Linked DNA regions of Homo sapiens: region 1 is linked to region 2. The links come from fine-mapping of genetic effects on gene expression. A gene starts in region 2. The other region holds a variant in brackets. All regions are shown on one strand. Distances are between the middles of the regions. Region 1 has its middle 43 kb from the start of SARAF. Region 2 holds the start of SARAF (store-operated calcium entry associated regulatory factor).

Region 1 (16,032 bases), 44 kb after region 2:
ATGCCCATTGACTAAAATTTTGAATCCCAAGAGAAGAAGCTATTTAAAAATAGAATATCTCTTTTGCTTTTACTTAAAAGACTGTATGAGCATCATGAAAAGTATAAATTTCAATCTTCGTTTGTATAAGTAGATTTTGTTAGTGTTTTGAAAAAAATTATGTAAATTTCCTATCCTAAACTAGCTTTGGCCCATCTGATAGTCCCCTTTCTCCGTTTCCCCAGGTTACTATGTCCCTTACATATATTTGTGGCCTCAGGGGCAAGGTCCACAGCCAGGGGACCTTCTCTTCTGTCTCTACCACCTTCTATTCCTGTTTCCTTCTCTCTTCTTCCTGCCCTGGGTCACACTTTTTCTTCTCCTCTCATACTATGGTAGGTCAGGCTCTCAGGCAATTTAGATGGGTAGGACTGATAGCATAGCACAGGAGATGGAGAAAGGGAGAGGAGGCGGGGGTGGGCGGCTCACGCCTGCAATCCCAGCACTTTGGGAGGCTGAGGCAGGTGGATCACCCGAGGTCAGGAGTTGGAGACCAGCCTGGCCAACATGGTGAAACCCCATCTCTACGAAAAATACAAACATTAGCCAGGCATGGTGGCGGGAACCTGTAGTCCCAGCTACTCGGGAGGCTGAGACAGCAGAATCGCTGGAACCCCGGAGGAGGAGGTTGCAGTGAGCCGAGATGGTGCCACTGCACTCCAGCCTAGGTGACAGAGAGAGACTCCATCTCAAAAAAAAAAAAAAAAAAAAAAAAAAGAGAGAGAGATTGAGAGAGAGAAAGGGAGAGGGAGGATGGAATAGTAAACTCTCCTGGCCACGCCCCTTTCTTCCCCACTAACAACCGCTGTTAGTGACTGGCTCCAGCAGTGAATGTGGTATCCTCTTTCAATCCCTCAGTCTATTCTCATGGGTCCTAACTTGCCCTATTCCCATGCTTTCCTCCTCTGGGTTCATGATTTACTCTCAAAACTGCATTTGTGGGAGAGAATAAGAAGAAATAATAAGGAAACAGCAGAGGGTATCGAGACAGACGGTATCACCAGTATCCACAACCATGCCCTAGGCTAGGCAAGCCTGGTTCCCTGGTCTAGTTTGGTCAGGAGGTCAGATGTCCAACATCAATGACTTACTGTTTTCAAACCTTAGGTCAGGGGTTTTGTTCCCTCCTGATATGAGGAAGAGAAAGAGGTGGACTTATAGCTGGTAGACAGCAGATGATGAAGCGGTGCATAACCCATAGCTAATCTTAGCTCTTTTTTTTTTTTTTTTTTTTTTTTTTTTTTTTTTTTATGAGACGGTGTCTCGCTCTGTCGCCCAGGCTGCAGTGCAGTGGCGCAACCTCGGCTCACTGCAAGCTCCGCCTCCCGGGTTGACGCCGTTCTCCTGCCTCAGCCTCCTGAGTAGCTGGGGCTACAGGCACCCACCACCACGACCGGCTAATTTTTTGTATTTTTAGTAGAGACGGGGTTTCACCATGTTAGCCAGGATGGTCTTAATCTCCTGACCCCGTGATCCGCCCGCCATGGCCTCCCGAAGTGCTGGGATTACAGGCGTGAGCCACCGCGCCTGGCCTAGCTAATCGTAGCTCTTTAAAAACATATCTGCTTACTCTTGGGAGTAAGTTTCAGATGTGACTTTCATTTCTCGGGTATGCTGTAGAGGAAACAGGGTTGAGAATCTCTGTCCTACTTTACACTATATCCACCTCCCTTAAGTACATTCTTATTCAATTTCCTCCCCAGCTCAGTTGCTGGGATGTTTTCTTGACCTAGTGACATCAGTTACGATGGAAATTTTGAAAGGGTGGAACAAGGGTGGGTCTTCTGGACTGCAAGTGCTCTCTTCTGTGTGTCAGGCATCTGCAGAGACCAAAACAGGAGATTCAGCCTCAGTGCTCAATTATATATTTTCTTGTGAATAATTATTAATTTTAAAATTTATTACAAAATACATCAAATATGAGAAGAGCACGGAGAATAGTATATCAAATATCCTGCTATCTTATAGCTATTTCAGATCCCTATTTTTTTTTTTGAGACAGAGTTTTTTTTTTTTTTGAGACGGAGTCTCGCTCTGTCGCCCAGGCCGGACTGCGGACTGCAGTGGCGCAATCTCGGCTCACTGCAAGCTCCGCTTCCCGGGTTCACGCCATTCTCCTGCCTCAGCCTCCCGAGTAGCTGGGATTGCAGGCAAGCCACCACTCCAGCTAATTTTTGTATTTTTAGTAGAGACGGAGTTTCACCATGTTGTCCAGGCTGGTCTCGAACTCCTGACCTCAAGTGATTGACCCGCCTTGGCCTCCCAAAGTGCTGGGATCTTGATATCCTTCACATGGACACTTAGTATACCACAGGAAGGCATCTTTAATAACTTCCTTTCTGTGTTCTGCTCTTCCTCCTGTGCTTGTCTTAAAACAGAGCCTTACAGGGTCATAATTTGGAGGAAGCACAGGTATGAGCCATTGTGCGCAGCCATATCAGATCCCTATTCTTGTTTTATTTATTTTTTGAGACGGAGTCTTGCTCTTGTCACCCAGACTGGAGTGCAGTGGTGTGCTCTTGGCTCACTGCAACCTCTGCCTCCCGGGTTCAAGTGATTCTCCTGCCTGAGACTCCCAAGTAGCTGGGATTACAGGCATGTGCCACCATTCCCAGCTAAGTTTTGCATTTTTAGTAGAGACGGGTTTCATAATGTTGGCCAGGCTGGTCTCGAACTCCTGACCTCAAGAGACCTGCTCGCCTTGGCCTCCGAAAGTGCTGGGATTACAGATGTGAGCCGCTGTGCCCAGCCATATCAGATCCCTATTTTTGAAGAATCTAAGTCACTAGGTATAGTTACAGGCACTGTGTATCACTCCCCAAACTCATTAGTCTCTTTCTTTTCCCAGAGGTAACCACTATTCTAATTTTGGAGTTCATCATTCCCATGAATATTAAAAAATTTTAATTACAGACAAATGCACGATTATGTGAAGAATAGTTTGAATATATTACAACTTTACATAAGTTTATAAAGTTATGTTCATTCCTCTGGGTCATTCCTTTCAACCGCTTCATAATATTTCTCTATGGCTTTAACCCAATTATTGTATTTATTCTCTTACTGTTGGATAGTATTTAAAAAAAAATAGATCTATGTTGAGATTATTTCAAAAACAGTGCATATTAACTGCCAAGCACTGTTCTAAACACTTGACAAGTACCGATTGATTTAATTCTCATAATAGGACTATGAGGAACTCCATATTATTTCTCCATTTTACAGATGGGAAACTGAGGCACAGAAGGAAGTTAAGTCACAGAGAGAGGTTATTTGCTCAAGGTCACAACGTTAGTAACTTGTGGGCCTACTTCCTAGAATTGAAATTTATGGATCACAGGCTATAGGCACCTTCCACCTTACTAGATATTGCACTCTACCAAGCAGTTGTGTAGATAGGAACTCTTGGAGAACAGAGCCAGAAGAAGCCCAGAACTGTGAGGAATAGTGGATTAGGAAACCATTCCCAGGATGTAAAACTAGGCCCTAAACTAGGAACATTCTCTGCCTCCAGAATAGGGTGTCTGGCATGGCCTGAATTATGTCTCCCCTCAAATTCATATGTTAAAGCTCTGTCCTTCAGTGTGACTATGCTTGGAGACAGTGCCTATGAGGAGGTAATAAGATTAGATGAGGTCATAAGAATGGGGCCCCAATCCAATAGGGCTGGTGTCCTTATAAGAAGAGGAAGAGACACCAGAGCTTTACAGCTGTCTGCAAACCAGAAGGAGCACCCTCACCAGGAATCAAGTTGGCTGGCACTGTGATCTTGGACTTCCCAGCCTCTAGAACTCTGAGAAATAAATTTCCATTGTTGTGATTGCTTTGGCAGCACATATACTAAAAATTGGAATGATACAGAGAAGATTAGCGTGGTGGCTGTGCAAGGATGGCATGCAAATTTTTGAAGATATATATGTATATATACACATATATGTGTATATACACATATATGTGTATATACACATATATGTGTATATATACATATATGTGTATATACACACGTGTATATACACACACGTGTATATACATATATGTGTATATGTGCATATATGTGTATATACATGTATGTACATATGTGTATATACATATATGTGTATATGTGTGTATACATACATACGTGTGTACATATGTGTATATGTATATATGTGTATCTGTGTACATATACATATATGTGTATCCGTGTACATATACATATATGTGTATCCGTGTACATATACATATATGTGTATCCGTGTACATATACATATATATGTATATGTGTACATATACATATATGTGTATATGTGTATATATACATATATGTATATATGTATATATACATATATGTATATATGTGCATGTGTACACATACATATATGTGTATATGTGTATATGTGTATATACATATATGTGTATATATACATATATGTGTATATGTGTATATATACATCCATGTATATACATATATATACACACACATCCATATATATATATATATATATATATATATATATATATATATATATGGAGTCTAGCTCTGTTTCCCAGGCTGGAGTGCAGTGGCACAATCTTGGCTCGCTACAACCTCCATCTCCTGGGTTCAAGTGATCCTCCTGCCTCAGCCTCCTAAGTAGCTGGGACCACAGACATGTGCCACCACACCTGGCTAATAGTGTTTTTGTATTTTTGGTAGAGACGGGGTTTCACCATATTGCCCAAGCTGGTCTTGAACTCTTGAGCTCAAGTGACCTGATTGCCTTGGCCTCCCAAGGTGCTGGGATTACAAGCGTGAGCCACTGCGCCTGGCCAACATTCCATATTTTAAAATGGACTCTGGGGACTCGAGAGAAAGGGTGGGAGGGAGCCGAGGGATAAAAGACTACACATTGGGTGCAGTGTACACTGCCTGAGTGATGGGTGCACCAAAATCTCAGAAATCACCACTAAAGAAGTTTTCCATGCAACCAAACACCACCTGTTTCCCAAAAACTATTGAAAAATAAAAAAGAAGCTAGATGACAGACATAATGGGTTAACTATACTATTCTCTGTATTTTTGTGTAAATTCAAACTTTTTTAGAATAAAAATTAAAGGCTGCTTAAAAATATTATATTGCTTAAGCCATCCCTTCTGTGTATTTTGTTATAGCAGCCCAAGTGGGTTAATCCAGGGTCTTAATCAAATTTGTCTGGCTATGGGTTGGTGGTTACTATATGCCTTCCATTACTCCTTTTTGTTTTTGGAGGGGGGTGTCTATTGTGACTGTCCTATCTCTGCCTCACCATTGTATGCTGGGTGCGTATGTGAGCAGATAACTTGTCTTTTTAGTACATGGGTCTCTGGATCCAGAGAAGTTGGACTTGAGAAGCGTCATCTACATTTGAACCTTGCAGATCATGTTGTCATGGACGTTGTCCCTGATGACATGATTGAGTGAGACTTCGGAGTCCTGACTGGGGATAAATGCCCCTTGCATGCGGGAGGGGTATCAATCATTGAGGTGGAGGGAAGACTGTGATAGAGATTGTTTTATGTATGTGTGCATGTATATATATTATATATATGTATTTATTATTATTTTTTTTTGCCAAGTGTGGCTCTATCGCCCAGGCTGGGCGCCCAGGCTCTGTCGTCCAGGCCCAGTGGCACGATCTCAGTTCACTGCAACCTCTGCCTCCAAGGTTCAAGCCATCCTCCCACCTCAGCCTCCTGAGTAGCTGGGACTACAGGTGCGTGCCACCACACCTGGCTAATTTTTGTATCTTTTGTAGAGATGGGGTTTTGCCATGTTGTCTAGGCTGATCTCGAACTCCTGTGCTCAAGCCATCTAACTGCCTGGGCCTCCCAAAGTGTTGGAATTACAGGAGTGAGCCACTGTGCCTGGCTGAGAGTGTTATATATTAAAGGCCTCCAGTGAATTTCTCTTTTTAGTATCCAAACCCTTGCAGTCTTCCTGTCTTGATGCTGGAGTTGGCTATATGACATTTTTTTTTTTTTTTTGAGATGGAGTTTCATTCTGTCGCACAGGCTGGAGTGCTATGGTGTGATCTCGGCTCACTGCAAACTCCACCTCCTGGGTTCAAGTGATTCTCCTGCCTCAGCCTCCCAAGTAGCTGGGATTACAGGCGCTCGCCACCAGGTCTGGCTAATTTTTGTATTTTTAGCAGAGACGGGGTTTCACCATGTTGGCCAGGCTGGTCTCGAACTACTGACCTCAAGTCATCTGCTTGCCTCGGCCTCCCAAAGTGTTGGGATTACAGGCGTGAGCCACCGTGCCCAGCCATGTGACTTTCTCTGGCTTGCAGGGCATAAGCAAATAAGAGGCTAGCAGAGACTTGATAAGCACTTTGCACTGGGGATTCCCTTGTGGACATTTATGTTGCCATGTGAAAAAGGCCAGTTTAGGCGCCTTAAGGATATAAAATCAAATAGACAGAGGTCTAGCCATCCCAGTGGAGCCCAGTCCCTGCCAACAAATGTAGCCACATCAGGACATGCAGGTAAGGTCAACAGAATAACTGCCCAGCCATCCTACAGATTCAGGAGAAATAATAAATTGTTATGTCTTTAAGCCACTAAGTTTCAGCCTAGCTTGTAACATAGCAATATATAACATATATGAAGTTTAGCTCCCCTATTGTCATTTTTATTTTTTTCAATTATGATCAATGACATCTATGCATTTTTTCCTAAGCAGAACTTTAGCGGCATCTTATACGTTTTGATGCATACTATTTTCTAATTTCCATTATACTTTTTTTTTGACTTAAGATTTACTCAGACAGGGCGTGGTGGCTCCCACCTGTAATCTCAGCACTTTGAGAGGCCGAGGCGGGTGGATCACCTGAGGTCAGGAGTTCAAGACCAGACTGGCCTACATGGTGAAATCCCATCTCTACTAAAAATACAAAATTTAGCCTGGTGTGGTGGCGTGCACCTGTAGTCCCAGCTACTCGGGAGGCTGAGGCACAAGAATTGCTTGAACCTGGGTGGCAGAGGTTGCAGTGAGCCGAGATCGCACCACTGCGTTCCAGTATGGGCAACAGAGTGAGAACTCTGTCTCAATTAAAAAGTAAATAAAAAAATAAGAGTTATTTAGAAGCGTATTTTAACATTTCTTTATATAATTTTTTTGTTACTTTTTTGTTATTGGTTTCCAGTTTATTTGAATCTTGTTAGGATTGGCTTGTTAAAACTTTTTGAGATTTACTTTGAGACCAAATACATGTTCAAATACTCTAAAGTATTCTGTTTATGTTTTAATAGCACATGTATTTGCTGATTTTTGTCTGTGGTATATATATATACACACACACACTTTATATATTTTATATATGTTAATAAATTGGGGAGGGGGGATAGCATTAGGAGATATACCTAATGTAAATGACGAGTTAATGGGTGCAGCACACCAACATGGCACATGTATACATATGTAACAAACCTGCACGTTGTGCATATGTATCCTAGAACTTAAAGTATAATAAAAAAAAATAAAAAAAAGAAAAAAAGAAAATCAGAGAAAAAAATAAATTAGCTTGATATGGTATATATATGTGTTTGTGTATATAGACTATCTATATCCATATATCTATTATATTTATGTATTACAATCATTATTCTATAACTATTATAGTATATTATATAATCTGATATATAATATATTTTATATATATATATATATATATATGTGTGTGTGTGTGTGTGTGTGTGTGTTTTCTTTTTCCGTCGCCCAGGGTGGAGTGCAGTGGCGCAATCTCGGCTCACTGCGAACTCTGCCTCCCCGGTTGAAGCAATTCTCCTGCCTCAGCCTCCCAAGTAGAGTAGCTGGGATTACAGGCGCCTGCCACCATGCCTGGCCAATTTTTGTATTTTTAGTAGAGACGGGGTTTCACCACATTGGCCAGGCTGGTCTCGAACTCCTGACCTCAAGTGATCTGCCCACCTTGGCCTCCCAAAGTGCTGGGATTACAGGCATCAGCCACCGTGCCCGACCTCTGTTTACTTTTTTTTTTTTTTTGTCCATTTGCTTTATTTACTATTGAGGTACTTTTGTTAAAATTTCCCAGTTTCACAATGGGTTTAAAAACTTTCCTTTTAATTTTACTCATGTTTACTTCATATTCTGATACTGTTATTAGTTGAGTACATGTTCAGAATTGTTATATGTTTTTGGTGGTGTATCATTCATCTACTTTTTCATAATAATTCTTTTGGACTTAAAGTCTTATTTAAAATATTAACATAGCTCTATCAGTAGTTTCGATGATATTTACTTGTAATATATTTTTACATCTTTAGTTGTAACTTTTCTGTATTCCACTGTGTCTCTAGTAAGCAGCTTATGCCTGCATTTTAATTTTTTAATTAAAAAACTTTTTTTTGAAATGGAGTCTCACTTTGTCACCTTGGCTGGAGTGCAGT[G/A]GCGTGATTTCAGCTCACTGCAACCTACGTCTCCTGGACTCAAGCGATTTTTGTGCCTTAGCCTTCCAAGTAGTTGGGATTACAGGTTTGCGCCACCACACCTGGCTAATTTTTGTATTTTTAATAGAGACGATGTTTCACCATGTTGGCCAGGATTGTCTCGAACTCCTGACCTCAGGTGATCTGCCTGCCTCGGCCTCCCAAAGTGCTGGGATTACAGGCATGAACCACCATACCCAGCCATACATGAATTCTGAAAGGCTGATTCTCTATTAATAATGAATTTTATCCATTTGCATTTATTGCAATTATTTACATGTTTAGATTTCTTCCTGTCCTCTTTTGTGCTTTCTATTTACTATGCTTTTTCTTTGCTCCTTTTTTGTCTTGCTTTAAGTGTGTTTTTTTAAATTCACATTTTTCTTTTTAACTAACGACATCATGCATTCAATTTCTATTTCTTACATTTAACTTGCGTCTTGATTTAAGACAGGCTGAAATTGATCAGCATCACCAGCCTCCTCTAGAACTAGAAAATAATCTTCTTGAAACAGTCCCAATAATAGGTTATTCATAGCTAATATTCTAGTTTCACAATGTTTTGTTTCCTCCACAAATTTGTTACTTTTTATTGTTTTATATGAGCAATGCTTACTTAGATTTACCCACATTTGACACATTTGCATCTTATTCCTTTCCTCTGGGCTCCCTCCCTCCCTCCCTCTCCCTCTGTTCCCTCCCATTTTAGAGACAGGATCTCTCTCTGTGGCCCAAATTGGAGTGCAGTGGCGTGATCATGGCTCACTATAGCCCGGAATTCCTGGGCTGAAGCGGTCCTCTCATCTCAGCTTCCTGAGTAGCTGGGACTACAGGTGCATGCTGCCATGCCAGGGTAATTTTTAAATATTTCTGTAGAGACAGGGTCTTGCTGTGTTGCCCAGGCTAGTCTGGAACTCCTGGCCTCAAGCAATCCTCTTGCCCTAGCTTCCCAAGGTGCTGGGATTATAGGCATGAGCCACTGCACTCAGCCCTCTTTTCCTTCTTCCTAAATTATGTCTTTTAGGATTCCTCTCAGCCAAAGTTTGACAGAGGTCAACTCTCTTATTCTTTGTTTGCTTTAAAATGTCTTTAGTTTGCCTTCATTCTTTAGTGATAGTTTATCTCCTTTATCTGCAGAGAATCCTAGATGATAATTATAATTTTACACTTTGAAGATATTGTGTTTTTGGTTTCTGTTGTTGTTAAGTCTGCTGTTTGTCATTCCTTTGTAGGTAATCTACTTTTTTTTTGGTGTTTAAAATTTTCTTGTTGTCTTGGTGTTTTGCTGTTTATTATAATGTGACAAGGTATAGATTTATTTCTGTATTTCCCACTTGGTACTTTTTGTATTATACTTCCTGAATCTGAGGATTCATGTCTTTCATTAATTCTAGAAAATTCTCAGCCATTTGTTCTTTGAATATTACCTCTCTCACATCTCTTTGTTTCTGCTGGAATTCCCATTAGATATATATTTATTTTCTCATTCTCTCTTCTGTGTCTCTTAAACTCTCTTGAACCCTTTCCGTGTTTTATTTCTTTTGCATTCTGGGCAATTTCCTGAGCCCTATCATAGTCTACTCTTCTCTTTTCAGTTGTGTCTAAGCTGATGCCAAATTTGACTAATGGGTTTTCTGTTTCAGTGATTCCATTTTTCATTTCAGAAGTTTTTTTTTCCTTTCTATACTGTCTTCTATGTTTACTTTTCTCCTTTATGTCTTTAATTGTTTTATCATCTTCATTTGATTATTCAGGAACCTGAAGCTCTGAGAGTCTAATGAACTTTATTACATGCTTGTTACTTCTGCTGGCTCTTGCTCACGATGGATTATTAAGTACTGAGTTGTGTGATTGTATGTTATGAGTTCATCTTCAGCAGGGCTCTATTTGTAAGAATGGTGGTGAGTGTGTCCCTCCTGTGTGGTTTTCTTCTGCCAGGTGCTCCAGTGATGTAGCCATCCTAGGATCTATTTATGTGTTAATTTTTTGGCTTGGGGGTTCCTGGGTCCTCACATGGCATTGACCCATAATTGACTTTCCGATGAGGAAACTAATTTTTTTTCTTTTTTTTTCTTTTTCTATTCAGAGTCTAGGTAGGCCAGAAGAGACAAACTTCTACGTCATTTCGTTATGCTGGTAGAGAGATATTTTTCTAGTCCACTCTTCCTGTGCTGTATGTGGAGTCAGGGGAGGGAGGATGGGTGGGTCTTACTTCAGCTTCCTACTTGGCAGTCTCAAGATCTTTCACTTTATCATTGTGTACATGTTAAAACCAAATTCCTAACGTTTCGTAAGTTGGAGATAAACCCGACCAATCCAGGTTAGTTGCCACATCAGCTCACTCACATAATGCTCTGGTTTTCAGAAACCAAATCTTCATTGCTGAGCTCTGGGGATTTCTCCTACTTTCTTGTAAGCTTAACTATGCATTCAAATGTTTTTACTTTTTTTTTTTTTTTTCCACAGAGTCTCACTCTGTCACCCAGGCTGGAGTGCAGTGGTGCAATCTCGGCTCACCGCAACCTCTGCCTCCCAGGTTCAAGCAATTCTCTTGCCTCAGCCTCCTGATTAGCTGGGATTACAGGCATGTACCACCATGCCTGGCTAATTTTTGTAGTTTTAGTAGAGATGGGGTGGCATGAGCCACCGCAGCTGGTTGCTATGCATTCAAATGGATGTTACATCTGGCATTCCTCTGTGTTAATGGTGGGAGAGTTTTCAAGACATTGAGTCTGTCCTGTTCATAAAATTAGAAATCTTCAGTATTCTAATCTATCAAAGGTCGTTGTCCATACCATACGATCATAGCCTAATTTCCATACATGGCACACACTTCCACAGGAGCATGCTGCATGTGCACATGTGTGCACCCACACAATACCTGTTTTGCCTACAGTAGACTCACCCTTAGTGCCCATGTGCAACTTTATCCCTTATGGGATCTCAGTGGAAGAAGTAAAAGTTTCAATGCCTAGAAAAGTATATGGGGTCAGAGGGAGTCCCTTCATTATCAACAAAAACTTTTCGGAAAATACAGCACAGTGGTTAATGGCTGTGTATCAGACAAGCCTGTGTTGAATCTAGCCTTTGCCAGTCTGTGACCTTGAGAAGAGTACTCAACCTTTTTTTTTTTTGGAGACAGGGTCTTGCTCTGTCACTGAGGCTGGAGTGCAGTAGTGCATTCTTGGCTCATTGCAGCCTCAATCTCCCAGGCTCAAGTGATCTCCTATTCAGTCTCCCAAGCAGATGGTACTACATGTGTGCACTAATTTTTAAAAAGTAAAAACAAATAATAAAAAAAAGTTTTTATAGAAACATCTCACTATGTTGCCCAGGCTGGTCTTGAACTCCTGGCCTCAAGCGATCCTCTCACCTTGGCCTCTGGGATTACAGGCATGAGCCACTGTGCCCGGCCTTACTCAACTTCTTTATGCTCAGTTTTCACATCTGTGAAATGAGAGTGTTAAATGTTGTGAGGGTTAAATGAATGCTTCAATAATGTTAGTTATTACATTTATTATTATTATTCTTTATTTGTATGCTTAAAAAAACTCAATCCCTTTCCAAAAGACTCTGAGGGCCAGTATATTAAGTTGAACCACAAAATCGCTTTCATGCGCGTCCGTGTGAAGAGACCACCAAACAGGCTTTGTGTGAGAAATAAAGCTTTTAATCACCTGGGTGCAGGTGGGCTGAGTCCGAAAAGAGAGTCATCGAAGGGAGATAAGGGTGGAGCCGTTTTGTAGGATTTGGGTAGATAAAGGAAAATTACAGTCAAAGGGGGGTTGTTCTCTGGTGGGCAGAAGTGGGGGTCACAAGGTGCTCAGTAGGGGAGCTTTTGAGCCAGGATGAGCCAGGAGAAGGAATTTCACAAGACAATGTCATCAGTTAAGGCAGGAACAGGCCATTTTCACTTCTTGTGTGGTGGAATGTCATCAGTTAAGGCAGGAACTGGCCATCAGGATGTGTACGTGCAGGTCACAGGGGATATGATGGCTTACCTTGGGCTCAGAGGCCTGACAATCGCCATGTTTGTAGATAAAAAATTATTAGATTGGTAGTTTTGTAAGGCTCAATGTAATACTTACTTCAGAACAGGGATCCTATTTTGAAGTTGTTAGAGGAAGACACATTCAAAGGATGAGACTTTGATAATAGAAACACAGATTGGGGCGGGGTGCAGTGGCTCATGCCTGTGAGCACTTTGGGAGGCTGAGGCAGGAGGATCACCTGAGGTCAGGAGTTTGAGACCAGTTTGGCCAACATGGTTGAAACTCCATCTCTACTAAAAATACAAAAATTAGCCGGGCATGGTGGTGGCCACCTGTAATCCCAGCTACTTGGGAGACTGAGGCAGGAGAATCACTTGAACCCAGGAGGTGATGATACAGGAGTTATTAAGAAATAATTTTTAGGCAGATAGTAAGGGTAAAGGTTCTCGGTGGAAATTTTCCTGGAATAAGAAACAATCCCTGAACCATCTCTTTTCTAACAGAAATGGTGGCTTGAAGGGTTGGGCCAGCAAGCTTTAATATGCAAATACAGGCCATTAGAAACTGGGTTCACTCAATATGGCGATTCCTGCCATCTTTTCCTTGTCACCAGGTGTAGCAATTGTCATGGCCACCTCCAGATAACACCATGTGTTCAGAACATCATGGCGACCTGCATTTGTATGTTACGGGGCTAAGGTGGGAGGGCCAGGTTTTTCTTGGGTTATGTAAATGACACACCTGGTGGGCCCTATGGAAATCAGACACCACCTCCTCCGGCCTCTTCCTATAAGCAGCCACTTTTCTGCCGCACACGGAGTTTTCTCTTTGTTTGAATACCCCTCCCTCTGTCTCTATACGGGGGAGCTGTTTTCTTCTTCCTTCTTTCTTGCCTATGAAACTTTTCGATCCCTAAAACCACTCCACGTGTGTGCGTTTTATTTAAACCGGCACGAGACCGAGGACCCTGGTATTCCTCCAGTCATTGGAGTGGTATCAGCAAGGTTGCAGTGAGCCGAGATCACCCCACTGCACTCCAGCCTGGGCGACAGAGTGCGACGCTGCTCAAAAAAAAAAAAAAAAAAAAAAAAAAGTAACAAAGATTGGGACTCAGTCTCTGGGGTTAGGAAGGTCCCCAGGTGTTGAATTTGAATTCCCCATTGGACATTTCTTCGGTTTTATTATAATTTAGTCAGTTTTAGCATTGCCTAATTTAGATAAGTTTTGCCAGAAAGTTGCTGAAAAGTTATATATTTCAGGGTATTGAATAGGCCTATGTATTTGAAACAAAAATATCCCATTTTGGAAGTGATCATTAAGAATAGGAGACTTGGTAGTTAGCAGGAGGCTTTCAGATGGTCAGCTCATTAGCGAGCTCCTAAGGTGGCCTGCTGAGTGATTAGGAGAAAGAATTGAGGGTGGATTTGCATACTTCTGGATCTGATCTTCTTGTTAACACTGGATAGCTGATTAATAACTGTGAAGAAAATAAAGGTCCTGCCGGGTGGCCCGCAGGGAGCGATACATAATTAGAGGAAACCTCCCCTGCCAGACAGAGAGCTGCTGCTGCAGGGTTGATGAATAACCTTCTGAGGCCGGGAGTTGGAATTTAGCCGAATTCCTGTCACTTTCTCCTGTAATTTGACTGTGTGATTCGTTGACAAGAAAAAGTGGCCCTGCGGAGGTGAGCCCTCCCCACACCCGAGGCTCTCCAGTGCTGCTGAAGCCTTTTGAATTCACTCGTCTTCGAACAGATCAGTCATTAGGTAATCTCTCTGATTTCACTTTTGTGATTTAGGTAAATTAGAAAATTAGCAACAATTAAGTCAGCTATGGGAGAGACTTGAGATATATGGCCTGTTATTTCACAAGAGATAGTTAACTACATTCTGTAGCACTTCCTGTGATCTTTATGAGACTTGTTTACTCAGTTTCTCTGGTGGGCAGAATTTTTTTTTTTTTTGAGACAGTCTCGCTCTGTTGCCAGGCTGGAGTGCAATGGCGTGATCTCAGCTTACCGCAACCTCCGCCTCCTGGGTTCATGCCATTCTCCTGCCCCAGCCTCCTGAGTAGCTGGGACTACAGGCGCGTGCCACCACACCTGGCTAATTTTTGTATTTTTAGTAGAGACGGGGTTTCACCGTGTTGGCCAGGATGGTCTCGATCTCCTGACCTCATGATCTGCCTGCCTTGGCCTCCCAAGTTGCTGGGATTACAGGTGTGAGCCACCGCACCCGGCTGCAGAATTTAGTTTCTATTCCTACCCCAAAACCGAATTGGTGGCTGAATGTTGACCTGAAATGACAATGTAGTGTTAGAGCCTCTCCAAGGATGCCAGAACTCTCTGATGACAATGGATTACACCTCCCTCTTAATTTCTTCCTTAAAAACTATGTAAGTAATCCATGGTAGCTTCTTTTATTTATTATATTGTATTTATTTATTTTTAGAGATGGGGGTCTCACTTTGTTGCCCAGGCTGGTCTCAAACTCCTGGACTCAAGTGATCCTCCGACATCGGCCTCCCAAAGTGCTGAGATTACAGGCATGAGCCACCATGCCTGGCCCCATAATCACTTATGTAAAAGTAAAAGAAAACCCCCAGATCACCATATTCACACCTTGGTGCACGGCAAGGCCCTGAGTGAAAAGAGGATTCAATCTAGAGCAGAGATGGAGAAGTATGACTTTCATTATGGGAAAGGCATTTCTATGTAATAGACGGAAAAAGAAGACTGTAGTTGCAGATGGAGAATTGGTGGTTAAAATACGAGGGATGATTTGGTACTTGATGGGTTCTGTATTCTTCATGAAGTGTGAGGAATGATCAATTGAGGCTACATGGAACAGGACGTCAGAGTTTTAGTGGAGTGGAGAGGTATGAAATCCTAATGGAGAATGGGAGAAGGGTTTAGTAGAGGAAATTTAAGAAAATTTCTGGGCATGGTTGAGTGTAAATTTGAGGTTGGTCACTACTAATTTGACCTGTTACCATTCTGCTTAACTGGGTGTTTTTCTCCAGTAATAACCAATGTTTCAAGTTCAAGGCATAGAGGAGGTAAGGTGGATATTGGATCTGTGCAGAGTTCAGGTTCTGCTGTGGAAGGAGAAGGTCAAGGAGCTGAAGGTATTTGTAAGACAGCAAATGCATTTGCTAGACTATGGAATTGTAGCTTGATGAGAAGGAATGTGCTGGGTAAAAAAAAGTAGAAATGTCATTGTTTTTGGGATGTCGATGAGATCAAAGAAATGTGGGAGGAAATGGAGAAAATGATGTCAAAGGAAAGAGGTTACGGTAGGAGACAGAGGTTTTTAAATTAGTGCCTTTTCTTTTTTTTAATATTTGTTTATTTAGTTTTTACATGGACAAGGTCTTACCTTGTTGCCCAGGTTGGTCTCGAACTGCTGGGCTCAAATGATCCTCCTGCCTTGGCCTCCCAAAGTGCTGGGATTACAGGCATGAGCCATTGCACCTGGCGGTACCTTTTCTTTTTGCTTCATTTCTTTTTTCTTTTTCTGAGAAGCTCAGTGGAAGAGGAGGTATCTTCAGCTTGGG
Region 2 (16,032 bases):
CTTTTGATTGCGATCTGCCAAGGAAAATTTCCCCCAAGGAGAGACAACACAGTGATGAATAAATGTGTTAATAGAGAACGGAAAAGCCATCGCAGGTGGCGGGGTGTGTTGTTTGTGTGTGTGTGTTTGCGTGTGTTTGTGTGTGTGCGTGTTTGTGTTTGTGTGTGCCTGCATGTGTGTGTGCATGCATGTGTTTGTGCGTGTTTGTGTGTATGTGTTTGTGTACGTGTTTGCGTGTGCATGGGTATTTGTGTGTGCGTGTGTGTGCGTCCTTGTGCGTGTTTGGGTGTTGTGTGTGTGCGTTTGTCTGTGCGTGCGTTTGTGTGCGTGTCTGTGTATGCGTTTGTGCGTGCATGTGTGTTTGTGTGCGTGCGTGTCTGTGTTGTGGGCGTGTTTGTGTGTGCCTGCATGTGTTTGCGTGTTTGTGCACGTTTGCGTGTGTATGCATGTTTGTGTGTGTGCGTGTGTTTGTGCATGTGTGTTTGTGTGTGTTTTGTGTGTTGTGTTTTTGTGTGTTTGTGTGTTTGCGTGCGCGCATGTATGTATGTGTGGTGGGGAGTTAGGAGCTTTGGCAGCAAATGGAGCAAGGAACTTGCTTGGTCCCTTGGAGAAAAGAGAGGTGGCCAATGGGGTTGGTCAAGGTTGGGGTGGGGCAGCATGCTTATATAGTAGGGACGTACACAAGCAGTTTTGGGTTTTCTCTCTGAGCAATAAAAATCTTTTGAAGGTTTTAAAAGGAAGTAGGTGGGGGTGAGCTACGTACGATTTGAATTTTTAACTTTTTTTCAGTCATCAGACTAACATAAAGTGGCATGTAAGACTGTGGAGTGAATGTTTAGAAGAGATATTTCCAATATGCTTTAAAATGAGAGCAAATGGGAAGCTTGAGGCATTACCCACTTCGCTTCTCTCTACTATTTCTAGAGTTGAATTACAATTTAAACAACAACAACAACAACAACAAACAGGTCACTTCTTGAGTCTTAATGCACCAAATGAGTCTATGGGTGTTTTGTAGGAGAGTAGAATTTTTTTCTGTTCAAGTTAGTGCAGAAAGATCTACCATCTCTTTCCTGTATCATGAAAAAAGTTTCCATTTAAGGATGTGGTAACAAAACCACAAGGCACACTTGAACATATGCCATGGAAATACACGCTGTTTACACGGAATCTGTGAGCCACCAGCTCCTTTCTCTAAACTACTGAAGCAGGCATATACGTCCTTCTCCCCAGCCATCTTGAATGGATAGGTGGAATTCCTGGAGAAGTGAATAATTCCATCCCACATGTCACCTACCACAACACCTTTTCTTGTTTTGTTCTGTGAACCCACAATATGTGAGACAGGTCTCAGTCAATTTAGAAAGTTTATTTTGCCAGGGTTGAAGACGCACCCTTGACACGCCTCAGCAGGTCTTGATGACCTGTGTCCAAAGTGGTTGGGGCACAGCTTGGTGTTATACATTTTAGGGAGACATGAGACATCAATAACTGTATATAAGGTGTACATTGGTTCGGTCTGCAAAGGCGGGACAACTCAAAGTGGGGAGGGGGTGTCCAGGTCATAGGTAGATAAGAGACAAATGGTTGCCTTATTTTGAGTTTCTTTTTCTTCCTTTCTTTTTTTTGAGACCAAGTCTCACTCTGTCACCCAAGCTGCAGGCTGGAGTACAGTGGTGCGATCTCGGCTCACTGCAACCTTCAACTTCTGGGCTCGAGCAATTCTCCTGCCTCAGCCTCCCGAATAGCTGAGATTACAGGTGCCCACCACCACACGTGGCTAATTTTTTTGTTCTTTTTTTTGAGGCTGGAGTGCTGTGGCACCATCTGTCTTCTGGATTCAAGTGATTCTCCTGCTTCAGCTTCCCAAGTAGCTGGGATTACAGGCATGTGCCACCACACCTGGCTAATTTTCGTATTTTTAGTTAGAGACGGGTTTAACCATGTTGGCCAAGCTGGTCTTGAACTCCTAAGCTCAAGTGATCCACTTGCCTCGGCCTCCCAAAGTGCTAGGATTATAGGCATGAGCCACCATGTCTGGCCTCTTCTGAGTTTCTGATTAGCCTTTCACTGAATACACAATTTACAGGTATAGTCACTTATGCTTTAGTCTGGGTTAGTGAAAAAACAGGGCAAAGGAAGCAATCAGATAAGCATTTGTCTCACAGTGAGCAAAGGATGACTTTGAGTTCTCTCTGTCCTTTGTCCACAAGGAATATCCTTGTGGGCAAATTGTGAGGTAGGTATGTAGCTTTATTTTTTTCATTTATTTTTATTATTATTTTTATCTTTGTAGCTATCTTATGTAGGATAAGATAGCTACAAAGATAAATTTCCCTTTTTTTTTTTTTTTGAGGCAGGGTTTTATCCTGTTGCCCAGGCTGCAGTGCAGTGGAGCAATCACAGTCATGGTAGCTTCCTGTCATGGCAGCCTCCACCTCCAGGGCTCAAGCTATCCTCCTGCCTCAGCCTCCCGAGTAGCTGGGACCACAGATATGCACCACCATGGCCCGCTAATTTTTTACTTTTTGTAGAGGCGGGGTTTTGCCATGTTGTCCAGGCTAGTTTTGAACTCTGGGACTCAAGAGATCCTCCCACTTTGGCCTCCCAAAGGGCTGGGATCACAGGTGTAAGCCACTACCCCCAGCCTGATTTGCTCTTTTCAGTACAAATGTGTTGGCATTACAGATGTCCTTGACAACATTCATGGGCAACTGGGATTACTCATCAGGTTACAGGAATCTACATTCTTTTCTTCCATGGTCACAGAATCCTGAGAGATTGTGCTCCTTATCTTTCCCATGAGATTCAGTGTTTCCAGCACAAAAACACTCATCACTCTAAGGACCATTTTTGGTTTACTGGTCTAGGGACCAGTTGTGTCCGGAATTGGTGGGTTCTTGGTTTCACTGACTTCAAGAATGAAGCTGTGGACCCTCACGGTGAGTGTTACAGTTCTTAAAGACGGTGGGTCCGGAATTTGTTCCTTCTGATGTTCGGACATGTCCGGAGTTTCTTCCTTCTGGTGGGTTCGTGGTCTCGCTGACTTCAGGAGTGAAGCCACAGACCTTCGCAGTGAGTGTTACAGCTCTTAAAGGTGGCGCGTCCAAAGCTATTCGTTCCTCCCGTCTGGAATTGTTTGTTCTTCCCAGTGGGTTCGTGGTCTCGCTGGCTTCAGGAATGAAGCCGCAGACCTTCGCTATGAGTGTTACAGCTCATAAAGGCAGCACAAATCCAAACAGTGAGCAGCAGCAGCATTTATTGCAAAAAGCAAAATAAGAAAGCTTCCACACCCAGGAAGGGGACCCCAGCGGATTGCCGCTGCTGCTCTGGTGGCCTTTCTTTATTCCCTTATCTGGCCCCACCCACATCCTGCTGATTGGTCCATTTTACAGAGAGCTGATTGGTCCGTTTTGACAGAGTGCTGATTGGTGCATTTACAAACCTTTAGCTACACAGAGTGCTGATTGGTGCGTTTACAATCCTTTAGCTAGACACAAAAGTTCTCCAAGTCCCCACCCGATTAGCTAGACACAGAGGCTGATTGTTGTGTTTACAAACCTTTAGCTAGACACAGAGTGCTGATTGGTGCATTTACAGCCCTTTAACTAGACAGAAAGCTCTCCAAGTCCCCACCGGTCCCAGAAGCCTAGCCGGCTTCACCTCTCACTGGCGCTCTTCGCGGGATTTTGCGGCACTTACCCCGGGTGCTCCAGTAGCCCAGAAGGAGCTTGTCCCAGACAACCAAGAGGAAAAGAGGGGAAGCGAGAAAGAGAGGGAGACCCGCCATTCTGGCCAACGACCCTGCGAAGAGGGAATGGCGGTGCACGCACGGGACCCAGCCTCTGATCAAGCCCAGCAGGCGCCGGCCAGCTGCGCTGAGTGCTGGGCCCGTGGAGCCCGCGCCCACCCGGAACCTGCGCCGGCCCGCGAGCGGTGAGCGCCGGGCGCAGCCCCGGGTTCCGCCCGCGCCTCTCCCTCCACACTTCTCCGGGAGAGGAGGGAGCCGGCTCCGGCCTCGGCCAGCCCCAGAGAGGGACCCCCACAGCGCAGCGGCAGGCTGAAGGGCTCCTCCAGCGCGGCCAGAGCGGACGTCCTGGCTGAGGAGGCGCCGAGAGTGAGCGAGGGCTGCTAGCACGTTGTCACCTCTCACAGTCACTTGAGACCTTAAAAACAGTGTGTCTAAATGTTGTATTTCAAGGACCACCTAAAGCAGAATACTTTGGGATGCCTTCCAAATTCTTGACTGCTACTCCCGACCTTCTGAATTTAGAACTCTTGTGGGTAAAGCCCGGAATCTGAAAAGTTAACAAGAATCTCAAACAATTCCTGTGCAAACTAAAGCAAAGCTTGAAAGTCATTGTCGGAAAAAAGGTAGAATGTCAGTTTTCTCCACCAGTTTTCCAAGGGAACCCTAAATGCTAGTTAATGTCATATCCTTTAAATGTTCTCTATTGTTATGTAATAGCTAATTAGTGTTACCTTTCAGTTTCAATACTTCTTATATGGATGGTTTTCCATTCTCCAAAGTTAAATGGTGGAGATGAGAATGTGGATGAGAGGAAGGGAATTCTTACTTTTTCAGCAGGTGCTATTTGCCTGGTGCTTTAGCATTCATCTCATTTAATCCTCTTCACAATTTTGTAAACTGAGAATTACTAACTCTTACAGGTTGATTCAGAGAAAGCTCAGAGGAAAAAAAATCTTTTTTTGGGTCAGGGTCTCACTCTTGTCACCCAGGCTGGAGTGCAGTGGTGTGATTTCGGCTCATTGTAACCTCTGCCTCCCAGGCTCAAGCTATCCTCCTGCCTCAGCCTCCCGAGTAGCTGGGACCACGGGCATGCACCACTATGCCTGGCTAATTTTTTTTTTTTTTTTTTTTTGTAGAGACAAGGTCTTCTTACGTTGCCCAGGCTGGTCTCGAACTCCTGGGCTCAAGTGATACACCCACCTCGGGCCTCCAAAAGTGCTGGGATTACAGGTGTTAGCCACCGCACCCAGCCCCTCCTGTATACTTTAAATAATCTCTAAATTATTTATAATACCTAATAACAATGTAAATACTATGTAAATAGTTGTTATACTGTATTGTTTACAGACACCAAAAAGTCAGTCACCAGAAAGACCATGTGATTAGAGTGTTAGAGGGTTGGAAATTTCAGCCCACCCACCAACCAACAGGAGAGATCGGGGGCGGGTGGCTGGAGATTAAGCTCTATACAAACTCTTAGACAACAAGATTTCATGAGCTTCTAGGTTGCTGAATACAGGGAGGTGCTGGGAGGGTGGAGTGCCCAGCGAGGGCATGGAAGCCCCATGGCCTTCTTATCTTTGCCCTATCCATCTCTTCATCTGGCTGTTCATCTGTATCCTTTATAAATCCTTTACAATAAACTGGTAAACATAAAATATTTTCCTGGACTGACGTCTGAATTGGGGCAGTCTTGTGGGAGACTGGGCCCTTAACTTGAATTGAGTTATAGGACATCGTGTTGATGTCCTTTAGAGTTGGTTGGTGTGTAGGGAAATACTCCCCCAGCCCCTCTTCTGGTCACAGAACTGCTCTGTGTTTTGTGCCAGTAGAAAGGAGAAAACAGTTTGTTTTTTCCTTTTACAGCCTCATCATTTAGCTCTCAGCTCAAATGGTAATTTCTCAGAGAATCTTTTCTGGGCCATCCTACTTGTTATGGCACTACCTGTCATATTGCTCTGTTTTCTTCTTCAAGGTACTTATTATTATTTGAGATAGAGTCTTGCTCTGTTGCCCAGGCTGGAGTGCAGTGATGCAGTCATGGCTTGCTGCAGCCTCAACCTCCAGGGCTCAAGTGATCCTCCCACCTCAGCCTCTTGAGTGGCTGGGACTACAGGCACATGCCACCACATCTGGCTATTTTTTTTTTTTTTTTGAGACGGAGTCTCACTCTTTCGCCCAGGCTGGAGTGCAGTGGTGCGATCTTGGCTCACTGCAAGCTCCGCCTCTCGGGTTCACACCATTCTCCTGCCTCAGCCTCCTGAGTAGCTGGGACTTAGGCACCCGCCACCATGCCCAGCTAATTTTTTGTATTTTTAGTAGAGACGGGGTTTCACTGTGTTAGCCAAGATGGTCTCGATCTCCTGACTTCATGATCTGCCTACCTCGGCCTCCCAAAGTGCTGGGATTACAGGCGTGAGCCACTGTGCCTGGCCACATCTGGCTAATTTTTTAAAAACAATTTTTTGTGGAGATGGGGTCTTACTATGTTGCCCAGATTGGCCTCAAACTCCTGGTCTCAAGTGATCCTGAGCCTCGGCTTCCCAGAGTGCTGAGATTACAGGTGTGAGCCACCGTGCCTGGCCCAAAGCACTTATTTATTTGAAATGACATGATTTGTTGGCTACCTCTCCCACTAGAATGTTTATTATAACAACCTTTCATCTTTTGTTCATGACTGTCCAGAACTGTACATGGTACATGGTGGGAATCTAAAATAACAAACATTCTCTTGTTAAGGTAATTAGTGATTTCTACATTGCAAAATTCAGAGACCAAATTTTGCTTCAAGCTTTCAGCAACAGTGGACACTGTTGACCATTCTTTCTTTCTCTCAATTACCATATCCTATTGTCCTAGTTCTTCCTCCTTCTTCACCAGAGGTTACTTCTCAGATTCTTTCTAGAATCTTCTGCTTGAGGTTCAAATGTTAGTGTTTCCATAGCCTGGGCCTCCTTTTTTGTGGTATCTCAATTCTCTCATGTTACTGTGTCTCTTCCCACATGTCTTAGTTCATTTTGTGTTGCTATAACAGAATACCTGAGACTGGGAAATTTATAAAGTATAGAGATTTATTTCTTATGGTTCTGGAGGCTGGGAAATCCTAGGTCCAGGGGCCTGCATCTGGTGGGGAGCTTCCTGCTGTGTCATTTCACGGTGGTAGGCAAAAGAGAAAGGGAGCTGAACTCATCCCTTTTATCGGGAACCCACTCCCCAATAACTAACCCACTCCTGTGATAATAGCATTAAGAGCTCTGCCCTCATAACCTAATCACCCCTTAAGAGTCCCCCCTCTCAACACTATTGCTTTGGGGAATAAGTTTCCAACACATGAGCTTTGGGGGACACATTCAAACAATAGCATCATGACATTAAATGCTATCTTTATATTTACAACATAACTACCAAATTTACCTTAGTTTTGAACTTCAGACTTTTACAGTTTATCTATTTATTTGACACGTCTACCTGGATGCCTAATAGTCACCTCAAACTTAACATGTTGAGCATAGATTCTCTATTATCTCTTATTTCAGTCCTTGGTCCCAGCATTGGTTGGTTCCATGCCGAGGCCCCACTGCTCTGCCATCTCTTATTCCACTCTTCCCCTAACTTACTTTGCTTCAGTTATGGCCTTGTTTGCCTCTTGTCCCCCAAATTTTGTTTTATTCACTGCTGTATCCCCAATACTGATAACAGTGCCTGGCAGGTACTGTTAGGTACTAATAGGTGCTCAATATAATAATCTGGTAAACATAAAGTGTTTTTTTGAGTTCTGTGAGCCATTCTAGCAAATTATGGAACTCAAGATGGGGGGTTATGAAAACCCCAATTTATTTGTTGAGAGGGAGTCTCTCTCCATGGTCCAGGTGCAGTGGGGCAGTCTTGACTCACTGCAACTTTCGCCTCCCAGGTTCAAGCGATTCTCTTGCCTCAGCCTCCCAAATAGCTGGGATTACAGGTGTGCACCACCACGCCCAGCTATTTTTCCTATTTTTAGTAGAGGTGGGGTTTTGCCATGCTGGCCAGGCTGGTCTTAAAGTCCTGACCTCAGGCGATTCACCTGCCTTGGCCTTCCAAAATGCTGGGATTACAGGCATGAGCCACCACGCCCGGCCTGGAAACCCTAATTTATAGCTGGTTGGTCAGAAGCATAGGTCACAACCTGAGACTTGTGATTGATGTCTGAAGTTGGGGCCATCTTGTGGGACTGAACTCTTTATAGGATCTGACCAAATAACTCTTCCTCGAAACACAAAGTTAGGGCTTTTGCATCCACTGTTCCCCAGATGGGAAGATGAGTCCCCTGATCTTTGTACGGCTAGTTCTTTCTCATCATTCAGGTCCCAAGCTTCAAAAACCACTTCCTCAGCAAGGCCCTCCCTGAAGTTGTGTCCCCAGGCTCCATTATATCACCCTGTTTTTCATCAATGTTATTACCTATCATTACCTATTATTTTTGTTGTTTAATTGGTATGTCGTTTGTCCTATTCTATTTCAATGAGTACAGGGATCTTGTCTGTACCATCCATGCCTAAAACAGTGCCTGGTGCGTATTAGGTATTCAACATATATTCATTGAATGAATGAATGAATGAATGAATGAATGAATGAATGAAAGAAACCCAAGCCTGCTAGACCTCAAAAGCCCAGAGAACTGTTTTCTCTGGCTGGTTCTTCATTCAGACGATATTTTCTCCTCTTGACATTTTATAGTCTTCCGGCCTCCATGCGCAAGGAACCATGTAAAGGTTCTGAGCCTTGAAACCAGACAATGTATTTCCCTGTTACTTTTCGCTTGAATCTTCTCTGTATTTAGCAACCAGTCATAGAACACTAACCATGTACCAAGCGCTATGCTAAGTGCTGAACACATAGAGCTGAATAAAGCACAGAACTACCCTTGGTACAATTATTGAGGTTTTAATAATACATAATTTGACTACATTTCTTAGATTTCGCGTCGTGACGTTTTCAGCCTCTCAAACTGCATCGCCTACGCACAGAAGCTTCCCGAATCTCAGACGAGACACAACAAAGCTGCGCGCTGCCCTCGCCCCGCCCGCGGGCGCGGCGGCGACAGGCCCTCGGCCCCGCCCACACCGCGGCGCCACGCCTCCAACCCGCCTCCAGCCGTGCCTCCCCAGGCCCTTGGCCCCGCCCACACCGCCTCGCCCCGCCCCAAGCCGCGCTGTGCTCCAGGGGCGGGGGCCCACGGCGGCCACTCACTGAGCCCCACGGGCCGCAGCGGCAGTGACGTAGGGTTGGCGCACGGATCCGTTGCGGCTGCAGCTCTGCAGTCGGGCCGTTCCTTCGCCGCCGCCAGGGGTAGCGGTGTAGCTGCGCAGCGTCGCGCGCGCTACCGCACCCAGGTTCGGCCCGTAGGCGTCTGGCAGCCCGGCGCCATCTTCATCGAGCGCCATGGCCGCAGCCTGCGGGCCGGGAGCGGCCGGGTACTGCTTGCTCCTCGGCTTGCATTTGTTTCTGCTGACCGCGGGCCCTGCCCTGGGCTGGAACGACCCTGGTGAGTGCTGCCAGGGCCCTCAGGCGCTTCGTTCGCCCTTTTCCGCCGCCGTCAGCCGGTGCAGGCTCCCCTGCGTTTCCGTGCGCCGTCTTCCCGGAGCCTGGGTGCCCGGATTCCCCATGTCTGACCTCTTTGCTGTTCGTGCTCTCCCTGGTTCCACTGCTCTTCCCAGGCGTCTTGGGAGGCGGGTAGGGACTGCTCGAGTGGGCGGGGCGGGACGGCTGGAGATCCTTAAGGTCCCCTTTCTCCCTGCCCCGGACTCCCGGAATTTGCCCATTGTCGTCTTTCTCATCTCTGAGTATAACTGGAGAGCTGGACACTCACCTGCGCATCTGCTTTGTTGTTATGGCTGTGTGATGTCATCGTGGCCTGCTGTTGTCATGGCTGCCTGTTGCTATCGCCGGCCGTTGCCTGCCACTGGCAGTCTCTGAGTCACCCTTAGCGGACAGGGCTGCAGACCTCGCAGGTCTGTTAGCAGAATCGCAGATTGCACTCTTTTTTTTTTTTTTGAGTCGGAGTCTCACATTGTCGCCCCGGCCGCACTGCAATGACGTGATCTCGGCTCACTGCAACCTCCGCCTCCTGGGTTCAAGAGATTCTCCTGCCTCGGCCTCACCGGTAGCTGAGATTACGGGTGCCCACCACCATGCCTGGCTATTTTTTTGTATTTTTAGTAGAGACGGGGTTTTACTATGTTGGCCAGGCTGGTCTCGACCTCCTGACCTCGTGATCCACCCGCCTTCATCCTCCCAAAGTGCTGGGATTACAGGCGTGAGCCACCGCGTCTTTATGAGAACCGCTGCCTCTTATCTGACGATTGCAGTGATGTACATCGCGCGGCACCAGCTCTTCCCATTGGCTTTCACCGTAGAGAAGAATTTAAAAAATAATTTTCTCGGTTTTTTTTAGTGATGGTACATGATAAGTGGGTTTTAGGAAAGAGGTTCTTTTATGTCAGTACAGTATTAAAATTGTCTAAAGAATTTTCATGGGATCAGTAATATTCCGTGCAATTAATACGTATATGTCTATATACTTAGATACAGATTTTGACTTTTTCCATGTAATAAATGACGCATGCTGTTACTTTGGAATTCTGTAAAAAAAAAAAAAAATGAAAACAACATCATTTTTGCTTTGCGAAGTAAAGATGGCATGGAAAGCATATTGCCTTTGTGATTTGGTGATTGGAAATGCCTGCATTGTCGAATTTAAGCAACAGGTTTATTTCTATAATAGCCTATTCTTACATGCTGAAATGAGAGAGAAGGTGCTATTTGCAAGCACATCACGTTGAGTAGTCATTTGATGTGGACATTTTATTACCAAAAATAAAAAGCCAAGTTGTATTTAAATGTCTGTACGTTTTTCTTTTGTATTTCTAGAAAGCTGTGTATGAGTGGGAGACTTGATCAGAATTACAAGTGAAAACCTAGAATGAAACTTTAATTTGTTGAACTTTGAATCAGTTCGTAAATAAATTTAATAAAGGAAGTTTACAGTTGAAGAGCCAGAAGAACTATAAAAACTATGAAAGAAGAACCAAATTTAAATTAAAGATGAACCACTTCCTGGTTTATCTACGCTGTAAAACTATTGTTCTGGAACACAAAGCACCACAATATTTTGCAGAGTAAACTCAATTGTTTTATGTAAATTCTACTTCAAAGTTTACTTTGAGGAACTTTTTTGTTTTGTTTTGTTTTTTTGAGACAGTTTCACTCTTGTCGCCCAGGCTAGAGTGCAATGGCGCGATCTTGGCTCACCGCAACCTCTGCCTCCTGGGTTCAAGCGATTTTCCTGCCTCAGCCTCCCGAGTAGCTGGGATTACAGGCATGTGCCACCATGCCCGGCAAATTTTGTATTTTTAGTAGAGACAGGGTTTCTCCATGTTGGTCAGGCTGGTCTTGAACTCCCAACCTCAGGTGATCCGCCCGCCTTGGCCTCCCAAAGTGCTGGGATTACAGGCGTGAGCCACCGCACCCGGCACTTTGAGGAACTTTTTAAATGAAGATACTTTATTGACATACTATTTATTAAGTCCTTTACTAAAGCATTAATCGGCTCCCTAATTTATCTTTTGTTTGACTTGGATGCCATTACTTTAGCTCACATTGAGCAGTAATTTGTCTGGAAAAAAAAATTAGCACCATTCTAAAGAGATTACCAATGAATTTTCAAAATTCCTTATTGAATGTAATCTTATATTAAGTTACTCTTCCGGGTGTTGGGAATATAGCAGTGAACAAAACAGTGTCTTGCCTCCAAGGACTTTACCTCTATTGGGGAGAAATAGACAATAAACAGATAAACATGTAAATAACATGCTATATTGTGAAAATTGGTATGCACCGTGTATGATAAACAGCGTAAGGAGGACATGGTGTGCGGGCAGAAGTGGAGACTTAAAAAACGTACATTGGTCAGGGAAGTCACTGTTAGGGTGACATTTGACTGGAAACCTGAAGTGGGGAGGAGGAGTAAATGACCTGAAATTACTTATATCTTTAAAGGCTCATTTGGGCTGCTCTGTGGAAAACAGACCGAAGAGGGTAGGAGGGAAGCAGGGAAACCAGTGAATTAATATATATTGCTATCTATTTTAATATTGTACAGTAAGTTCTTAGAGTGGTGACCGCTTGGCCCAGGGCAGGAGCAGTAGAGAGCTGGTTAGAGTAGCTGGATTCTCTTGTCACCTGTTTGGAAGGTGGAGCTAACATGATCTTCTGAAGGATCAGATGTAGGAGTGAGAGGAGAGAAGATGAGAAGTCCAAGGTTTTTGGCTTGAGCAACTAGAAGCATGGAGTTAACCATTTCCTGAGATGTGGAAGAATGTGGGATGATCAGGTTTAGGGGAGTTTGGTTTTGTTTATCTTGTTTGAGACCTGCCGTGATTTTGATTTATGAGTCTGGAGTTCAGGGAGCTCCTGTGTCCCTTGACTGATCTAACTAGTGGGGCGTGGGTATTAGAATTTTGTTCTTGGACCTTAAGAATCTCTAGGGAAGAAAGATGCTATAGGATTATGGTAATGCTATTCCATCTTAAAACTTTCAGTAATATTTATCATACCTGATCACCTGTTATGCTTCAAGTACTCAGCCAGATAATAAATTATATCTAAGCTTCACAACAAATTTCAAGGTTGATAATATTTTAATTTTGTAGGTGAGGAAACTTCTACACAGGTAAATTAAATGCCTTGGCCAAAGTCACAGCCAGTTAGTGACACCAACTTAGTTCAGTGTTCTTTGCATTATTGCAACTCTGTTACAATAAATTCAATTTATTATTTCTGTTATTTAGTTGATTAATACAGTCTGATTTTTCTAAACCATTGAACATTTTCATTGTCTTATTTTTTATGTATGAGGAGGTAGTAGTTTGTGTTTAATGTAGCATGGTTTATTTGAATATAGTTCTTGGAAATTTTAGATCTGTAGCCCATGTGGAATTAAATTTTTATATAGCTTTAGGTGGATTTTCTTGTGGCTGCATAGTCAATTATGCCAGTGCTATTTATTAAAGAAGACATCTTTTATCCACTAAATTAAAAAGACCACTTCATCTTACTGAATTCCCAAATGTATCTTGATTTATTTCTGATCTTTCTTTTGTTTCACAATTTCCTTGTCTCTGTTCCAATTCCCTACTATTTTGATTATAATCTTTTTTTTTTTTTTTTTTTTTGAGATGGAGTTTCACTCTTGTCGCCCAGGCTGGAGTGCAGTGGTAGCAATATCAGCTCACTGCAACCTCCACCTCCTGGATTCAAGTGATTCTCCTGCCTCAGCCTCCCAAGTAGCTGGGACTACGGGCGTATGCCACCACGTCCAGCTAATTTTTGTATTATTAGTAGAGATGGGGTTTCACCATGTTGTCCAGGCTGATCTCGAACTCCTGACCTTAGGTGATCTGCCCTCCTTGGCCTCCCAAAGTGCTGGGGTTACAGACGTGAGCCACCGTGCCTGGCTGATGATAATAATTTTATAGTAACCTTTACTATCTGGTAACCTATGTGTTCTTTTTCAAAAAAAAATTGTCCACAGGACCTTTAACATAATTTCTTTCCCCAAAAAACCCTATTGGGTTCCTGGTTGGAAGTATATTTAGGTCTCTCTCTCTATATATATTTTTTATATAGATAGGGTATTGACCTTAAGTTTATTAGATTGATTAGATTCATATTAAATACTTGTGGGAAATACATCATAGGAGATGTTGTAACATCAGTTTGTTCCACCATTAGCAAAGCGATGGTTGGCAAACCCAGCCAGACTTTTTCCTTTAGAGTTTTTGAATATATTTCTCCATTTTCTTTTTCTATCCTGTTGAGATACCTGAAGCTTTTCTAAGTCTTATCTTTTCTATATGGCTTGTTTTCTCCCTATTCTTCTGGCAATTTGTAGAATCTTTTTTTGTCTTCAGTGTTCTAAAATTTACTTTTCGTGTGCCTTTGTGTGGTCTGTTTCTCAGGCCTGGGTATTTGTTGGGCCCTTTCAGTATGACAACTCAAGTCCTTCAGTGTGGGAACTTTTCTTGAATTACAGCCTGGAGTTTGTCTAATCAGATTCCCTTGTTCATTCTTTCAGAAGCCCTTGTTGGATTTTTGGACTTTCTGAACTGGTCCTGAACTGGTAATTTTCTTTCTTTCTTTTTTTTTTTTTTCCTCCTACTGTCTTTTTTCTTTCTTTCTTTTTTTTTTTTTTGAGACGGAGTCTAGCTCTGTCCCCCAGGCTGGAGTGCAGTGGCACCATCTCGGCTCGCTGCAACCTCTGCTTCCCGGGTTCAAGCGATTCTCCTGTCTCATCTTCCTGAGTAGCTGGGATTACAGGTGCCCGCCACCATGCCTGGCTAATTTTTGTATTTTTAGTAGAGACGGGGTTTCACCATATTTGCCAGACTGGTCTCGAACTCCTGACCTTGTGATCTGCCTGCCTCGGCCACCCAAAGTGCTGGGATTACACACGTGAGCCACTGTGCCCAGCCTTTCTCTCCTACTTTCTATCTTTTTGCTCTACTTTCTTTTTTCTTTTTCCTTTTTTTTTCAGATGGAGCCTTGCTCTATCGCCAGGCTGGAGTGCAGTGGCACAATCTTGGCTCACTGCAACCTCTGCTTCCTGGGTTTAAGCAATTCTCCTGCCTCAGCCCCCCGAGTAGCTGGGACTACAGGCACGCGCCACCATCCCCAGCTAATTTTTGTATTTTTAGTAGAGCCGGGGTTTCACCGTGTTCGCCAGGATGGTCTTGATCTCTTGACCTCGTGATCCACCTGCCTCGGCCTCCCAAAGTGCTAGGATTACAGGCATGAGCCACCACGCCCGGCCTCTTTTTGCTCTACTTTCTAGAAGATTTTCTTTTAACAGTTCTGTCGTATGTATGTATTTATTTATTTATGTTTTGTGACAGGGTCTCACTCTATCACCCAGGCTGGAGTGCATGGCTCACTGCAGCCTCGACCTCCCCAGGCTCAGGTGATTCTCCCACCTCAGCCTTCTAAGTAGCTGGGACTGCAGGTGTGTGCCACCATACCTGGCTAATGTTATAATTTTTTTTGTAGAGACAGGGTTTTGCCATGTTGCTTAGGCTGGTCTTAAACTCTTGGGCTCAAGTGATCTGCTTGCCTTGGCCTCCCAAAGTGCTGGGATTACAGGCATGAGCCACTGCACCTGGCAGTTCTGTTGTTTTTAATCTTGGCTGTCCTGTTTTTAATTTCCAAAAGCTCTTGTTTTTTCTCTGAGTATCCCTTTTAAAAATGATTGTTTTATTAACGCAGTCTTTTTCTCTTATCTCTCTGAGGATATTACAGTGTTTTTAAAAAAGTTTTCTTCTTGTGCGTCATCTCTTTTTTCCTCCTGCTTCCTTTTGTTGTTGTTTTGTCCTGGTTGCTGTATTTCATGTTAGGGGCTGTTTTGTCTGTTTAATGTTACTGTAACACAATACCACAGACTGGGAAATTTATTAAAAAACTGAATTCATTTCTCACAGTTCTGGAGGCTGAGAAGTTCAATATTAAGGTGCTAGCATCTGGTGAGGGCCTTCTTGCTGTGTCATCCCATGGTGGAAGGCAGAAGGGAGAGAGTGAGAGAGGGGAAAGGGGCCTAACTCATCCTTTTATCAGGAGTCCACTCCTGCGATAACTAACCCAGTCCTGCAAGAACAGCATTAATCTATTCATGAGGGCAGAGCCCTCTTAAAGATTCCATCTTTCAACACTGTTGCATTGGGGATTAAGTTTCCAACATGTGAACTTTGGGGGACACATTCAAACCATAGCAGGGACTTTCCTCATATTTTTAGTAATCCTTGGCTCCCTGCTCATGGTTAATTCTGGGGAACCAAAAAGCTCATTGGAAGCTATCAGTGTGCAGTTGCACTTTTGATTTTGAACTTCACAACAGGGTGACCTAGGTTGCTCTTTTTTGGAGGAAGTTCCTGATGTCAGTGTATTTAGGTACTTCTTCTTGGTTAGATTACCAAGGGAATAGTCATCCAGTCTCCCACAGAGGACAAGGGGATGGCTGTTAGCATTTTGTGCACCATGTGGGGAAGGAGAACTGTGCTTTCAGCAGTCAGAGTGCACACAGTCACTTGGGTTCCCTGTTTGGTTGTTTTTGTCCCCATGCCCTTTACTATGCCAGATGGTCCCCAATGCAAATCCCTTCAGTTTTATCCTCTCCAGAGAATACATCTCCAGACAGTTTCCTTAGTGGGGAAGAGGGAGTTAGAACAGTGTGGAGTTGGGGAGAGGATCTGGGA

The links. PIP is the estimated chance that this variant, and not a neighbour inherited with it, causes the effect. A credible set is the group of variants that fine-mapping cannot tell apart.
Region 1: its variant is the best candidate, but not a certain one, in a credible set for the expression of SARAF in lung (TOPMed, PIP 0.55).

The regions. Positions count from the first base shown.
Region 1 is chr8:30,031,732-30,047,763 of GRCh38, reverse strand. It overlaps the pseudogene RNU6-1218P. Among named protein-coding and RNA genes, the nearest start is that of SARAF, 43 kb to the left of the region's middle. RefSeq lists an enhancer at 13,600-14,421. The variant G/A (reference allele first, on the strand shown) is at 8,447.
Region 2 is chr8:30,076,090-30,092,121 of GRCh38, reverse strand. SARAF (store-operated calcium entry associated regulatory factor) reads left to right here and starts at 9,058. Exons shown (of 6, transcript NM_016127.6): 1 at 9,058-9,275. The coding sequence starts at 9,173. RefSeq lists a silencer at 8,735-9,104 and enhancers at 9,145-9,494, 15,617-15,666.